2 separate regions of the Homo sapiens genome follow, and region 2 is linked to region 1. The links come from fine-mapping of genetic effects on gene expression. Tissue or cell type: whole blood. Region 1 holds a variant in brackets; the other region holds the start of a gene. All regions are shown on one strand. Distances are from middle to middle.

Evidence for each region. PIP is the estimated chance that this variant, and not a neighbour inherited with it, causes the effect.
Region 2: RAP1GAP2 starts here. The variant in region 1 is fine-mapped to the expression of RAP1GAP2 in whole blood (TOPMed, PIP 0.97).

The regions. Positions count from the first base shown.
Region 1 is chr17:2,992,264-3,000,370 of GRCh38, forward strand. RAP1GAP2 (RAP1 GTPase activating protein 2) reads left to right here. Exons shown (of 25, transcript NM_015085.5): 13 at 3,074-3,203; 14 at 5,958-6,113. Among named protein-coding and RNA genes, the nearest start is that of RAP1GAP2-AS1, 30 kb to the left of the region's middle. RefSeq lists a silencer at 2,515-2,691 and an enhancer at 2,941-3,441. The variant TGG/T (reference allele first, on the strand shown) is at 3,690.
Region 2 is chr17:2,791,876-2,799,982 of GRCh38, forward strand. It overlaps RAP1GAP2 (RAP1 GTPase activating protein 2), which reads left to right and starts at 4,563. Exons shown (of 25, transcript NM_015085.5): 1 at 4,563-4,696. The coding sequence starts at 4,653. RefSeq lists an enhancer at 790-1,029.

The DNA.
Region 1 (8,107 bases):
GATTCTCCTGCATCAGCCTCCCGAGTAGCTGGGACTACAAGGCGCGCGCCACCATGCCTGGCTAATTTTTGTATTTTTGGTAGAGACGGGGTTTCACCATGCTAGCCAGGATGGTCTCGATCTCCTGACCTCATGATCCGCCCGTCTGGGCCTCCCAAAGTGCTGGGATTACAGGCGTGAGCCACCGTGCCTGGCTCAGTCTATGCTTTTTTAAGTGGGCAGTAAGATAGAACATTGGGGCCGTTGCTTGGAAAACTCTGGCCCTTGACTTTCCTTGGCCAAGACCGCATTTGGGATGAGTCCAGACCTGGCCAGCCTGTTTTGTCCTTGGTGGCTGGCAGATGGCTCCAGGCCCCAGAATTCTCCATCCCAGCAGCCAGATTGACATGAGCTCCTCACATCGTGTGAAAATACCTAGCCCAGTGCCTGGCACACAGCGGATATTCACTAATTGCTTTCTTCCTCTGCTTCCTTCTCTGTCCTTCCTTCTTTTTCCTTTCCTCTCTTCCTCCATCTTCTCCCTCCCTCAAGGTCATCACGGCTGTCTGGGGTCAGTCACACCTGGGATAAAACCCCCGCTCCATCACTTATTAGCTCTGTGACTTTGGATAAGTGACTTGACCTCTATAAGCCTCAGTTTCCTCACTGTAAAAAGCGAGATAAAGGGCTGGGCTCAGTGGCTCACGCCTGTAATCCCAGCACTTTGGGAGGCCGAGGTGGGTGGATCACGAGGTCAGGAGTTTGAGACCAGCCTGGCCAATATGGTGAAACCCCGTCTCTACTAAAAATACAAAAAAAAAAAAAAAAAATTAGGCAGGCATGGTGGCAGGTGCCTGTCGTCCCAGCTACTTGGGAGGCTGAGGCAGGAGAATCGCTTGAACCCAAAAGGCAGTGGTTGCAATGAGCTGAGATTGCGCCAGTGCACTTCAGCCTGGTCAATAGAGGGAGACTCTGTCAAAAAAAAAAAAAAAGGAGGTAAAGATAGTGTCAGCCCTAAAAGGTTTTGGGGGGATTAAAATAAGATAATGGGCTGAGCGTGGTGGCTCACGCCTATAACCCCAGCACTTTGGGAGGCTGAGGCGGGCAGATCACGAGGTCAGGAGATTGAGACCATCTTGGCCAACATGGTGAAACCACGTCTCTACTAAAAATACGAAAAATTAGCCGGGCGTGGTGGCACGTGCCTGTAGTCCCAGCTACTTGGGAGGCTGAGGCAGGAGAATCGCTTGAACCCAGGAGATGGAGGCTGCAGTGAGCTGAGATTGTGCCATTGTACTCCAGCCTGGGTAACAGAGTGAGACTCTGTCTAAAAAAAAAAAAATAAATAAATAAATAAAAAATAAAAGATAAGATAATGCTCACGAAACACTTAAGTGCTGTTCAGGGCTAGCTAGTCACGATTGTTATTGTTCTTATATTGCCACCTTCCATTGACTTTGAGATGCTATCATTATAAGACACATCCTGTGACTTTAAAATGTGAAAAAACGGCCAGGCATGGTGGGTCTCACCTGTAAGCCCAGCACTTTGGGAGGCCGAGGCGGGTGGATCGCTTGAGCCCAGGAGTTTGAGACCAGCCTGGGCAACATGGTGAGACCCTGTCATTAACAAAAATTTGAAAAATTATAAAAATTAGCTGACTATTGTGGTGTGCTCCTGTGGTCCCCGCTACTTGGCAGGCTGAGGCGAGGAGGATCGCTTGAGCCCAGGAGGTTGAGGCTGCAGTCAGCCATGATTACACCATTGCGCTCCAGCCTGGATGACAGAGTGAACCCCTGACTGAAACCAAAACTAAACGTGGGCCTTAGAATAGCTGAAATACAGTATAGTAAGCCCAGAAGGTCCTCAGAGTTATGAAATTCTATCCCTTTATTTTATGGAGGCCTAGAGAGACTAAATGAATTGTCCACGATCACGTGCTGATTTAGTGGCAGAAGCAGGTCTAGAACCCGGAGCTCCTGCCCCCTGTCCAGCATTCTTTCTGCCATGCCAGCCTGGGCACATTTTCTGGCTTGTATTGTAGTGTTGGGGATGCTGAGATTCTAGGTCCATCTTATTTCATTTTCTTAAAGGAACCTGCATCTGCTGAAGACTGTGATCAAAGCTGGCAGCCGTGTGTATAAAGGCAGAAGGGACAACTCCTGGAAGCCCACCCAGTTCCTTAGAGCTTTTCTTTCTTGCCTGTGAGGAGACAGCCAGAGAAGGGACTTCCCTGGATACTCCCAAGCGGGATGCTGCAGTGGTTGGGCCTGTATCTTAGGGACTAGCTAGGCAGAAGTTGAGCATCTGCCACCTCTTCTGACTGACTCCAGATGCTCCTCTGGGGCTCCCCACCAGCCACCAGGATGGCTGGCTGCCCTAGCTCTGGGCAGAGGACTTGGACATGGCCTTGCAGAGAGCAAAGAAAGGCCGGCGCCCCACCTTGGGGGAATGGCACCGGGGATGGGCATTTGTCTGGGATTGTGGATGGATGCGCTTCCTTCCCATATAACCAGCAAGTGTGGACACGGCACAGCCAAGGCTTGAGATGGAGGTTCTGCTTTGTGATTGATTGGTTGATTGATTGATTGATGGAGTCTTGCTCTTGTTGCCCAGGCTGGAGTGCAGTGGCGCCATCTCGGCTCACTGCAACCTCCACCTCCTGGGTTCAAGCGATTCTCCTGCTTCAGCCTCCTGAGTAGCTGGGATTATAGGCATGCACCACCATATCTGGCTAACTTTTGTATTTTTAGTAGAGACGGGGGTTTCACCATGTTGGCCAGGCTGGTCTCGAACTCCTGACCTCAGGTGATCTGCCTGCCTCGGCCTCCCAAAGTGCTGGGATGACAGGCGTGAGCCACTGCGCCCGGCCAGCTTTGTCTAAATAATGGGTTTGTGGGTAGAGTGCCAGCGCTGATATACCTGGAAGAACAGATCTACCTGCTTTTCCCACATCACAGCCTGCTCTGCCCTCAGCTCTCCTGTCTCCTCTGCTGCGTATCCTCTGCTGCGTATACTTAGGGGAGCTTGCATTAAGTTGCCCACTTTGCCTCACTCTCTTTTCTCCCCATCTCCTGCCCTGTTTTGTTGACAGTTTCCGAGGAGGCCTGGACGTGACCCACGGACAGACAGGGGTGGAATCAGTGTACACAACATTCCGGGACAGGGAGATCATGTTTCACGTTTCCACAAAGCTGCCATTTACCGACGGAGACGCCCAGCAGGTAACCTGGTTTGGGAGGGCTTTGGGAGCCCAGGGCGGGCGAGGTGAGGGCCTGCCTCTGGTCTGACCTGCTAAGAGGCTGTGGCCGTCCCCATATTCGTTCCCGTAGCCGGCCATTCGTTCAGCTGCGCAGCAGCGTCACAGTCCGTTCTGCTGTGTTTCTGGCCGAGGCTGTGCCTCAGCGGTCCGTTCTGTTGTGTTTCTGGCCGAGGCCACACCTCAGGGGCCCTGGGCGGGAGGCGGGGCAGAGCTTGTGTTTCTTCCACGTTGACTGATGGGAAAACTGCAGCCCATGGTGGTGACAAGACTTCCTTGAGGTTTCTCCGTTTATCAGGGGCAGAGCCCAGGGCAGAGCCTGGGGGCCCTGGTCATAGAGGGTGGTGGCAAAGGGTGCATGGTGGGGTTTGCAGATGGGGGCCTGAAGCCGCCTGTGCCACTTTGGAGCGTGTGACTCTGGGCAAGCCAGTTAACCTTCTCATCTATAAAA[TGG/T]GGGGTAACACCACCCATGGTAGAGGGTGATTGTGGGGATTACATACATTTCTGACTAGGGTTCATACGATGCCCAATTCATGGCTGGCTTCCTATAGAACAGCTGTTCACTGTCCAGCCCCTGGTCATTTTGTCCCCCTTCCTGCCCCAGTGACGGAAGGCTGGTTATTGCGTGAGAATCCTTCCCCACCCCCAGCCTTCCTCATCTCACAGGCTCCTCTCTCACCACACCTGTGGGAATTCAGCCTTGACCTCCACTAGGGAGACCTGGACGAGACCCCTGTCCCCACTGCTTTCCTGCCGTGCCCCCCGTTTGCTGCTCTGACAGCCGTGCATCCCTGGGGAGAGCCGCGGCTGGTTCCTGGCTGTTACAAGCCCAGTTCCCCCAGCCTGCCTTCTGCCCCTTTTCAGTCTGGGAAAATAAGAAAATGCAGGCAGGCCTTTGCCCAAACTCTGACCTGTGTGTCTCTGAGCAGGAACTGGGGAGGGAGCACAGATGTAAAATTGTAAACATAGTGCCTGGCTTCTTAGGAAAGAAGGAAATTGGCAAACGAGATGATGAGTTGGCTCTAAAATAGCTACTGAATGTTCCAGAAACAAATGGAAGCAGAAATCCTTTTGTATCCAAAGTGGGTTTTCATTCAACCTTTCACCTCCAGCCCCTCTGTTCCCTTATGGCCTCTCTCACCTGCTGCCCCGGCCTGGGCCTGAGGCCTGTTCTCTCTGGGCCTTCTCAGTCTTATGTGTGTTTCTTGGGAAATACACCTTGGCACAGGGCTCGGCTCTTGGCGGGGACTGAGTAAATATTAAGTTTCTCTTCCTGAGAAATGGAAAGATGCGCGTGGAGTAAGTGAGGCAATTTGTGTGAAAGTGCCCAGCACAGTGCTTGGTGTAAAACAGGTGCTCAGTGAATGAGAAACTCAGTGTGAAGGGACTGAGCATTGGGCCTGCATGCAGTGGGTGCTTAACAAAGGAACAAATGCATAGACAGGCACCTAGCCAGGACTCGACATACAGGAGCGGGTTTTTGTGTGTGTGTGAGGAGGGCTGTCACTCTCTCACCCAGGCTGGAGTGCAGTGGTGCGATCATAGCTCACCGCGGCCTTGAACTTCAGGACAGGGTTAACATTTGATATCATGCATGAACAGCCCAACATGGTTCCAGGGACACACCAGGTGCTTGGTGGCCGAGATCACACCCAGAAGCACCTGGCCCTGCTTGGGATATGGAGTTATGGTTGGGATCCTCCTTCCATCCCACCTACGCCAAGCTGGGTGAGCAGTGCTGTCATGATCTGCCACCTCATCACTCTCATTCACACCTTCAAGACCCCCTGACACGTCTCCTCCTCCAGGAAGCCCTCTCAGGTTGCTTTCCAGCCCTGTAATTTTGCCCTTGCCTCTGTCTCCAGAGCTGTCAGGGATTTCATGCACAGCAGCTGACTTAGCCCTTGCTGGCTGGTGGCTTTGTTAGTTTTCTCAGGTGGCTTCACCTGTGTTTGTATTTCTCCCAGATCAATGACAGGCTCTACCAGGGCAAGACCCCGCCTTGCCTTTTAAATATTCTTGCCAAGTCCTGAGTCAGGGATCTGCATGCTGTAGAGGTCAGTAAGATGCTCGCTAGCCTCTACCTAACGACTTGGCCATCTTCCCCATTTTTTTTTTCCTTTTTGGTGGCTTCTAAAGATTGAAAGAAGGTTGGGCACAGTGGCTTATGCCTATCATCCCAGCACTTTGGGAGGCTGAGGCGGGCTGGTCAGGAGTTTAAGACCAGCCTGGCCAACATGGTGAAACCTCGTCTCTACCAAAAAATACAGAAATTAGTGGGTGTAGTGTCACGCGTCTGTAATCCCAGCTACTCGGGAGGCTAAGGTGGGAGAATCACTTGAACCCAGGAGGCGGAGGTTGCAGTGAGCCGAGATCGTGCCACGGCACTCCAGCCTGGGCAACACAGTGAGACCCTGTCTCAAAAAAAAAAAAAAAAGAAAAAAAAAAGATTGAAAGAAGAACCCCCCTGGTTTTCCCCAAATAGGAAAGCAACTCAAAAGATACACAAAGCACGAAGCGTGTTCCATGCACTTCTCCCCTTGCTGCCTGGCATTGGTACTGTGCTTTCATACTTAAACTTCCAAAACAACAACCACGAACTCTTCTCACTCAGAATTCAGTTTTCCTGTGTGCAAAGGAAAGTGAACCCACTCTTTCCCCAAAACATCTTTCATGATTTTCCTAACTGGCTTATAACCTCTCAACACTTTTTATTTAGCTCCAGAGAAAGAGACACATTGGAAATGACATCGTGGCCATCATCTTCCAAGAGGAAAACACGCCGTTTGTCCCAGACATGATAGCCTCCAATTTCTTACATGCCTACATCGTCGTGCAGGTCGAGACCCCAGGCACAGAGACCCCATCCTACAAGGTAAGGAGAACGCCTTGTTGGAGGGAGTGGTGGGCCTCGACACCTCACCCTGTGTGGATGCTGTGATATCAGAGGACACTAGTCCTCAGCAGTCAGAGATTCTCCATGAGTTTGCAGGTTTCTGGGGTTTGGAGCTAGATTCTGGGTAGGGAGGACCTTCCAAGGCCACCTGATCCCCCTTGCTGCCTCCGGGCTCAATGGCATCTCACTTGAGGATTGAGGAGGTGTGAGTGTAGTATTTGGAATTTGGTGATGCCATTTGCTCGCTGTGAGTGTAGTATTTGGAATTTGGTGATGCCATTTGCTCGCTGTGAGTGTAGTATTTGGAATTTGGTAATGCCATTTGCTCGCTGTGAGTGTAGTATTTGGAATTTGGTGATGCCATTTGCTCGCTGTGAGTGTAGTATTTGGAATTTGGTGATGCCATTTGCTCGCTGTGAGTGTAGTATTTGGAATTTGGTGATGCCATTTGCTCGAGTAAGGCAGAGCTGGAATAAAGAAAGAGCGTGGAAAGGACGAGCAGGAAAGGGTAGCGATAGAAGGGTGCTAACGAAGGAAAAAAAGAAAAAAATGTTGATGGTGAGGGTGGAGAGGAGGGGCCTGGTAGACCCTGGCCACTGGGTAAGGCCCTGGCCTGGCTGTTTTGGACAAATGATGGATCTTAATTTAAAGACCTCCAGGGAGGCAGATACGCAAGCACCTGGGTCTGAACCTCCCAAGCAGTCACGGGTCTGTCAGATGGCTCGAAATCCTCACCGGTGCAGATGACAGCGAGACAGGGCAGCTCATTGCCCCTGCAGTCCCCCGCTCCCCACTCCTCATGGCTGGATCTCTGACCCTCCCTCCTCTGCTCCACGAGAAAGAATCTCCACCTCTTGGGCAACAGTCTCTTGGTATCACAGTGCTGTGGCGGGCATGGGACTCAAGGGCGTTGGACTGAGGCAGGCTTTCAAGGCAAGGGTTAGGCAGTCTCTGACTCCCTGCAGATAAATGCAAAATGCTGAATTTGTGCCTTTCCTTGGATTCCTGAAAAGAGAGGCCATACCTTAAATTCTCAAAGCGCTCCCTGCTCCGCAAAATATCAGGAACCACTGTTCTAAGGGGGAGGAAAGATGAGCCTGTGATTGCCAATGGGTAACCATGAGGCCTGAAAATGTTTCCCGTCAAATAATTTCAGCCCATCCTGATTCCTGGGGTTCATGAGGCCACAGCAGTTCAACTCAGTTAAGTGCAAAATTCACGTCAGCTTTTAAAATGTGATGTGAATCGTCAGAAGAAAATAAAAAGAGGCTGGGCACGGTGGCGTACGCCTGTAATTCTAGCGCTTTGGGAGGCAGAGGCAGGAGGATTGTTTGAGGCCAGAAGTTCAAGACCAGCCTGGGCAACATAGCGAGACCCTGTCTCTAAAAAAAAAAAAAAACAGAACAAAACAAAATAAAACAAAACAAGCAACAGAAACCCAATAGCAACCCCCTCCTGTTGAGGCTGATTCCTTCATGCCCAGGCTCATGTGTCCCTGCCATTGAGCAGTTTTAGCTGAAGCTGGCGAAGACATGGTGTGAGCATTTATTTTCTTTTCTTTTCTTTTTGAGACAGAGTCTTGCTCTGTTGCCCAGGCTGGAGTGCAGTGGTGCAGTCTCGGCTCACTGCAACCTCTGCCTCCCAGGTTCAAGTGACTCTCCTGCCTCAGCCTCCCAAGTAGCTGGGATTGCAGGCTCCTGCCACCATGCCCAGCTAATTTTTTGTATTTTTAGTAGAGACGGGGTTTCTCCATGTTGGCCAGGCTGGTCTCGAACTCCTGACCCCAAGTGATCTGCCTGCCTCTGCCTCCCAAAGTCCTGGGATTATAGGCGTGAGCCACTGTGCCCAGCCCATTTCTTGAAGGCTATAGGATCACCTGCTTTGAGTGAAATGGGCATTCACTTCAAACAGCTGCTCGATTCAAGTGTTGGTTGAAGCAAGTTGACTTACTCAGTGCCTACTGTGCGCCAAGC
Region 2 (8,107 bases), 200 kb before region 1:
TTGAGATGGAGTCTCACTCTGTCACCCAGGCTGGAGTGCAATGTCACGGTCTTGGCTCACTGAAACCTCCGCCTCCCAGGCTCAAACGATTCTCCTGCCTCAGCCTTCCGAGGAGCTGTGATTACAGGTGCCCGCCACCATGCCTGGCTAATTTTTGTGTTTTTAGTAGAGGTGGGGTTTCACCATGTTGGCCAGGCTGGTCTTGAACTCCTGACCTCAGGTGATCCGCTTGCCTCGGCTTCCCAAAGTGCTGGGATTACAGGCGTGAGACAGTGCGCCTGGCCGCTTCCCTTGTCTCTTGACTCACAATCCTTCCCAGGGAGCCCACAGTCTCCTTGCTGTGCACGGCACATGGAAGAGGAATCACAGGGTCAGAGCAGGGGGTCAAGAAGCTGCGCGGGACTGAAGCAGGGACAGAATCGTCCTTGACAGTAATGATAGCAGCTCCCGTGACGGCCTTGGAGCCCCGTGCTCAGTGTTTCTGTTTGCTGATAAACTCGTGAAGGTGGTGGCAGCCTCCCCAAATTACAGAAGAGAAAACTGAGGCCTGGAGAGATTAGGTAACTTGCCCAAGGTCGCTGGGCCCCAAGGAAGGAGAGGAAGGCAGCGTGGGAAAGGCCCTAGGAAGACTCTCACACCCTGCAGGGCTCATGATGGGCCATGAGCCGTCTGGGAGAGTCCCTTCCCCCTTTCCAGCCCTCAGTCTGGGGACGTGTGGGCCCCTGGATCCTCCTGGTTTCTCCAAGGTTCCTGGATCCCAGCGGCATCGAAGAAGTCCAGGCTGTGGGTTCTGCAGGGCCGGCAGCCGGGCCAGTCCTGCTCCTTGGCCGGGTGTCTGACTCAGGAGTGTTGTTTGTGGCTGTCAGGGGCACACCCCCCGGTGGGGGAAACCAGCCTCAGGGTGGCAGCAGCGGAGGCCTCGAAACGCACCCCTTCCCTGTCTCCAGGCTGCCGTTCAGATGTCTGTGCCTGGGCCGGAGTCTGTCCCGGCTCTGGGAACACTTGGTCCAGGTGTTCATAGCTGGGCATTTACCTGGCTGTCTCCATAGACCGGGAGGCCCCAGATAAAAGCATCTGTCAGCTTTGTCTTCCCCTAGAATGCATGCGGCGGGCAGCTTTCACATGTGGTCAGTGTGGGTGGTGAGGCGTGCCCAAGTGTGATGTGACTATCACCCCGCTTCTCTCTCATGTATGAAAGCGCATCAACGTATACTCCAAAGATGGGCCTGTCATTAACTCCCTCTAACTGATTTTTTAAAAAAGTAATTTGCAACAGGATTTTTTTTTTTTTTTTTGAGATAGAGTTTCGCTCTTGTCGCCCAGGCTGGAGTGCAGTGGCGTGATCTTGGCTCACTGCAACCTCTGCCTCCCAGGTTCAAGCGATTCTCCTGTCTCAGCCTCCTGAGTAGCTGGGAATACAGGCATGTGCCACGACGCCCGGCTAATTTTTGTACTTTTAGTAAAGACAGGGTTTCACCATGTTGGCCAGGCTGGTCTCGAACTCCTGACCTCAGGTGATCTCCCTGCCTCGGTCTCCCAAAGTGTTGGGATTACAGGCGTGAACCACTGCACCCGGCCTGCAACAGGAATTCTTGCAACGTATGCAACACCTCCAACCCCAGCACCTCCCAACTGAGGCTGTGGGCTGTACCTGGCTCACCCTGGTGCTTTCTGCACCCAGCATGGTGCTTGGCCTAGAGCAGGTGTTGCTGTCAGCGGCGGGAGGCCAGGTGGGCTGACTGTTCCCACTTTCACTTGTTCACTTGTCAAGCTCTTTTCTTTAGTTGGGACTTTATTAATGGAGAATGAAAGAAATCCAACTCATACTGGCTTTAGGAATAACTCTTTATTCGTACGGCTGGCTCTCCTATACCCGGGGTCAGCTGGTTCCTGGCACAGCCGGATCCTGGAGCTCAGATGATGCCCTTGAGACTCAATCTTTTGGCCGGGTGTGGTGGCTCCCGCCTGGAATCCCAGCACTTTGGGAGGCTGAGACGGGTGGATCACCGGAGGTCAGGAGTTCGAGACTAGCCTGGCCAACATGGTGAAACCCTGTCTCTACTAAAAACACAAAAATTAGCTGGGCGTGGTGGCGGGCGCCTGTAAACAGATATGTGGGAGGCTGAGGCAGGGGAATCACTTGAACCAGGGAGGTGGAGGTTGCAGTGAGCCGTGCCACTGCACTCCAGCCTGGGTGACAGAGCGAGACTCTTCAAAAAAAAAAAAAAAAAAGACATGATCTTTCTCCTCTTTCCCTTTCTCTGTCAGTTCTCTTCTCTGCCTTCCTGTGAGTCGGTTTCATTTTCCCCACACTCTCCACAGCCCCAGGCTTTCATCTCATGCTTCAGCAGGGGAAGCCTCTTGGGATGGTGTCTTGTTGGGTTTACTTAGGTCTCCTGAACCAGTCCCCTTGGCTGGCCAGGCCTGGTCAGGTGCCCACTCCTGACCCTGGAGGTGGATTGAGTGCAGAGGGTTCTTCTCAGATGGAGGCAGGGCAGGCAGGACCCAAGTTGTCCACGGTACCTGTTGAGCACTTCCTGGGTGTGGGTGGGTGCCTCTGGGGAGAGAGGCGCTTGTGGCACTCTGCAGTGGCCATCCTGTGGGAAGCCAGCAGCCTGAAGCCACCCCAGAGCATGAACCACACAATCCTAACTTTCCTGGGGCAGAGGTGAGGGTTGGGGGAAGCCTCCGGGCTCCTGCTGGGGACTAGCTGCCTTGGAGGTAGAGAGTCAGCCCCCAGCCCTGCTCTGGCCCAGGACCCTGAAGCTGCTCCCCCAGCCCACTCAGGGCTTGAGGCCCCTGTGCTGTCCCCTGCTGTGAAGGAGTCAAGAAAATAGAAATCCTTGTACCCTTCGTCCACAAGCTGGGGTTGGCCCCTGGCACCTCAGCACGGAGTCTAGGACCTTCACAGTGGCAGCAGGTGCCAGAGAGGAAATTTCAGGGAGGGTTGGCCAGAGAGAGAGGCCAATGGCACCAGCTAGGGCCGTTTTTTTCCTTTTTTTTTTTTTTTTTTTTTTTGAGATGGAGTTTTGCTCTTTGTTGCACAGGCTGGAGTACAACAGCATGATCTTGGCTCACTGCAACCTCTGCCTCCCAGGTTCAAACGATTCTCCTGCCTCAGCCTCCAGAGTAGCTGGGATTATAGGTACCTGCCATCATGCCTGGCTCATTTTTGTATTTTTAGTAGAGATGGGGTTTCACCATGTTGGCCAGGCTGGTCTCGAACTCCTGACCTCAGGTGATCCACCCGCGTTGGCCTCCCAAAGTGCTGGGATTACAGGTGTGAGCCGCCACACCCGGCCTTTCTTCTTCTTCTTTTTTTTTTTTTGAGACGTTTTCTTCCCTTTCTCCACTGCTTGGGGGTAGGGTGGGGCCTGGGGCCCTATCTGTGCCCACTCCCCCCAGTGTCTGTTGTAGTGTACGTGCCACATCCCTTTGAGGGGCTGCCATTAGTAAGTGCCTGCTGTGTACCAGGTGTGGTCAGCACCAGTGCGTGCAGAGATGAGCACTGGCCCTGTGGTGTGCAGACTGGGATGCGTGCAGGACACGCTAGCCCTGTGGCATGAGGACCAGCACCTGAGCATGCAGAGATGAGGACGAACCCTGCGGTTCAGCTGGGAAGACAAATCCACCCGCACATGGGTACCGCCCCCCCACCCCACACAGCCAGCGTGAAGCATGCCACTGCTCTGACCTCTGTCTAGACACTTGGCGGCGGGGGTGGGGGGCGGCTGACAGGTACAGCTCTGTGCCCATGTGTGTGTACATGCGAATGCCCCTTGCAGTGTGATGTGGTCTGAGTATGTGGATGAGTGCCTGCGGGCACATGTGTATGCGTTCATGTCTGTGCACGTGTCCAATGGGGCTTTGTCAGTATGTGAGAAGCGTGTGCAGGTGTGTCTACTGATGCCTGTGTGAAGTGGTGTGTGGATGTGCACGGGAGCGTGTGTGCCGCGCTGTGCTCAGGTGTGTACAGGTGTCTAATGATACGTATGTCTGCGTGCATGTATCTGTGTGTACCTGGGTATCCTGGGCGTGTGTGTGTCCATGTGTGCATCCCACGTGCCCCTGTGCCCATGCGTGTGCATGTATACTTACATCCACGTGTGCTAGTGGAATGACATGTGTGTGGCTGGTTCCTCTGGCGTGTGCCGAGCCATGGTGGGGCAGGCAGGCAAAGGTCCCTGTCTCAGGCAGCCCTCGGGAGTGGGTGTGAAGGTCCCCAGTGCTCAGGCGTCCCTGAGGCTTCCAGCTGAATCTTTCTGTCCCTCCTAGGCGTGGCTGTGGGAATCCTTGGGGCGCCTTTGGGTTCCAGGAAGCTGGGGCTGTGTGGGCCGGGCTGCTAACTGGGGCTGTGGAGCAATCTGCCAGCCGAGCCCCTTCCGGAGCTGTGGGTTCCTCTGGGTGTGGGGAAGCTGCCCTCCACAACCTCCTCGGCCTATCTTGGTGCCTCCTGGAGTGCAGGACACACCTCCCAGCTCTGCAGCCTCACCCACAGGAAGCTCGGGTTGGGGGCAGGCGAAGAGGGAGGTGCCACGCTGGGCTCCCCGCCCTGCACCGGCACTGACCCCGCTGTACCACGGCCCTCTTGCGGACAGCCCCGGGGACGTCGTTGGGACATCGCTGGGACCCCGGGCTCTGCAGCCACAACCATGTTTGGCCGGAAGCGCAGTGTCTCCTTTGGGGGCTTCGGATGGTGGGTGACAGGTGGGAGGGTGGGGGAATGATGGGAGAGAACTTAGAAGTGAAGTCTTGTTAAGTGCATTGGCGGCCGTGGGAACAGAGGGGCTCGGGCTGTGCCTGAGAGCTGGGTCTGCTGACGCCCTGGCAGGTCGAGATGCAGGATCCTGGTGGGGACATCAGAGACCGTAAGCCTTCCCCACTGTCCCTGGGCACAATCTGCTGGCGAATCCTGGAGGTCTGCGCCGGCTGCCCGTGGGGAGGTGGATAGCATGAGTGTGACTGCAGTTGAATGTGTGTGTCTCTGTGTCCGCAGGTTCCCATGTATGTGTGTGCGTGTCTGGGATTATGTGTAAGTGTGTGTGTGCGCGTTTGAGCCTGTGTGTGCAGGCGTGTGTGTGTGGCTGTGACTGCCAGTCCGTGTGACCGTGTGTGAGGTGTGTGCCTGTGCATGTGGGCAGCTGCCTGTCTGCACTTCTGGCCTTCTGTGTCTGTGTGTGCTTGTGTCTGCGTGTTTGTGTGTGTGATGCTCCTGTCTGTGCTGTTGTTGTGGCCTTGTGGCAGGGGAGTCTGTACCTGCTGGACCTCTGGGCTGCCTGCTGTCTTGGGGGTGGGTTGTGAGAGAAGGTCTCCCACCTGCACCCCAGGCAGCCCACCCTAGCTCTGTCCTAGCCTGAGCAGCTGCATCTGTCCCCAGCCTCCTGCCTGGCCCTCTGGACACTCTTGCCTCTAAGCTTCTGTCTGGGATGAGGGATGTGCTTTTTCTTCCCGGCGGGGGGCAGAAGGTAGGCACACGAAGGCCAAAGGCTTGTCTCTGGTTCCCAGTGCTGGCAGCTTCTTCGCAGCTGGGGAACAGAGTCTGGTGGTTTTCATGATCGGTTTCCTTTCAGTGCCTGGGCTGGGGGCGTTGTCAGACTGGGAGAGGGCCCCGCGGGAGGTGGCCGGGGGGTGTCCCGGTGTGGAAAATGGTGGACTAATGGGGGTGGCACGAAGGGCGAGGGGGAGAGGGGCTGTGTTCCTCGGTAATTTTTCGCTTCCGTGTGTGTGGCTTATTTCCCTCTTCCTCCTCTTCAAAAGCACTTTGCCATCCATCCTCTGGCAGGGGGGGACTGTGGGCACTCCATGTTTGGCAGATGGGATGGTGCGGATGAGAAGATGGCACAGCGTCGCCTGTGTCTGCTCTCGGGCCCTCCCTGACGCCTGGATCTGGGAGCTGCCACCCCGAGGGTAGGTGCCAGTGTCCGGGAGGCAGCAGAGGACTTGGCTTCTGGTTGGGAGGGGTGTGTGTGTCTTGGCTGTGGGCCTTGCAGGGCAGGGCCCAGCAATTAGATTGTGCCCTCCAAGGCCCGCCTTTCTCTGGGAGGTGTGGAGCAGATGGAAGGCTGGTCGCCAGAAAGCTCCGGGTGCACAGGTCCCGGTCTCAGCCTAGCTTCATTCCATATGAAGCCCTCTGTGTTGAGACCCACAGCTCCAGAGCACAAGGCAAAGCCAGGCCTGAGATTTGAATCTGGGCAGGTGAGGGGGAAGACAGGAGTGTGGCTGCCCAGGGCTGCCAAGATAGAAAGCAGAATTCCAAGTTCTTCTCTAGCAGCCCTTCTCACTGGGGCTTCCTTAATGAAATGCACATTCAGATTCAGGAGGTCTAGGGTGAGCCGAAGGTGGAGGAAGAGCCCTAGGATGTCCCAGACGCCCTTGTGTGCTGGCTCAGTGTCCACTAGGCTGTGGGTTCCAGGAGGGCAGGCCCTGCCCCGTCGCGTTCACCTGGAAGCCTGGCATGTCACACAGGCTCAGTCGATGCTTGTGGACTCATCGAGGTCTTTTGCACACAGCAGGTGTCTGCTTGGGGCCCCTTGAGGTTGACGGGATGGCGGGGCCTTCTGGGCTTGGAAGGTTAAGGCAGCAAGAAAGGGGGCGAGACTGGGGTTTGGGCCTCCTCATCTGGGATGGCTGTCAGCTGGGAGGGGGTGTCACGGATTCCTGGAGCCCTGGTCCCTCCAGACAGTGAACAGAATCTCTGGGGCTGGTGTTTTCCAAGCTCCATTGGATGCAGGGTGGATAACCTCTGGCACCAGGGGCAGACAAGGTGATGAGGGTGGGTGGGATGGGATGGGAGAGGGAGGAGTGCCCAGGAGCCTTGGCTTCCTGAAAGGGAAAGGCCCAGCCTCACAGTCCTCTCCATCTCCCATCTCAGCCTCTCCAAAACCAGAGCCCTGCCCTCCTGAGGCCACACCCTGATGTGGGAACTCTGGTGGGCTGGCTGCTGTGTAGGCGTGGTTTGAACCAGGGCTGCTGTGACCACGGTGCCTGTAGGTGGTGCGGTGGGCGGGGCTGACCCGACAGCGGTCAGAGGTGCACGCACCAGGAGCCCCGGTTCCAGCGGTTCCAGCGCCGACTCCACCTTGACCATTGAGGAACTCTAATGGGACACTTCCTCTCTCTGGGTCTCAGTTTCCCCTTGTGTCAGTGGGGGATTTCTGCCTTACCCACAACACAGGGCTGTTGTAAGAATTAGGAGATTCCTTGAGAAAATGTAAAACCTAAGCGCCTGCTGTGAGGGGCTGCCATCCGGCAGCTCTGGGTTGCACGCGTTACAGCAGAGTGTGGGGCTCTGAGTCCTGCTCGGATCTGGGTGTCTGTGCGTTGAATGGGGGAAGAGGAGGGTCTGCACCCCAGAGCGGGTGGGGATTCCAGGGTGAGACCCTCAGGGACCAGTAGTGGAAGCCCTAAGGAAGGGACTCAAGAGGACGTGTGAGGAAGAAACTGGGAGAGACGTGGGCCAGGCCCCTCGGGGTGCCGCTTGCTTTGCTGTTGTAACTGAGATCAGAAGGTGCTGGGAGTTTACTCAGAGTGAAAGGACCCCGTCCCCTAGCTCCAGGCCTCAGGGTGACTTGTGGGCTGGCTCAGCTCCGTGTCCTCTCCTCTTCCCTGGAGCTGTGACTGTGGGAAGCCTGAGGCAGCGCTGGGCTGGCCAGAGAAGGGTGCCGGAAAGAGCCTCCAGGGTCTCCAGCATGCTGGAGCCAGTGGCAGTTTTAGTGAAGCTGACAGTGATGGTGACACTGATGATGACATGTGGTGACATGGACAGTGATGGTGACACGAATCGTGATGTTGCAAAGGCAGCATTGGTGCTGGTGGCAGTGCTGGTGACAGTGGTGGTCACGACCCTTCCACAAGAGGAGATACTGACAGTGGGAACACTGTCCACCTTTCTGCCTCTGGAGAGGGAGGAGGGGCCTCTTCTTGCCAGCCATAAGGGCTGGCATATGCAGGGGGGTAAAAATAGAACCTCAGCGGCGCTGTCTCCCCTTCCAGTGAGGGCGGGCACAGGCTGGGGATGGAGGAGCTGGCTGTGAGGGCAGTCTGCAGCAAACGTGATCTTCCCCGCTCTGAACCTCTGTGCCTGATACAACCCACCAGGGTCTGCCCC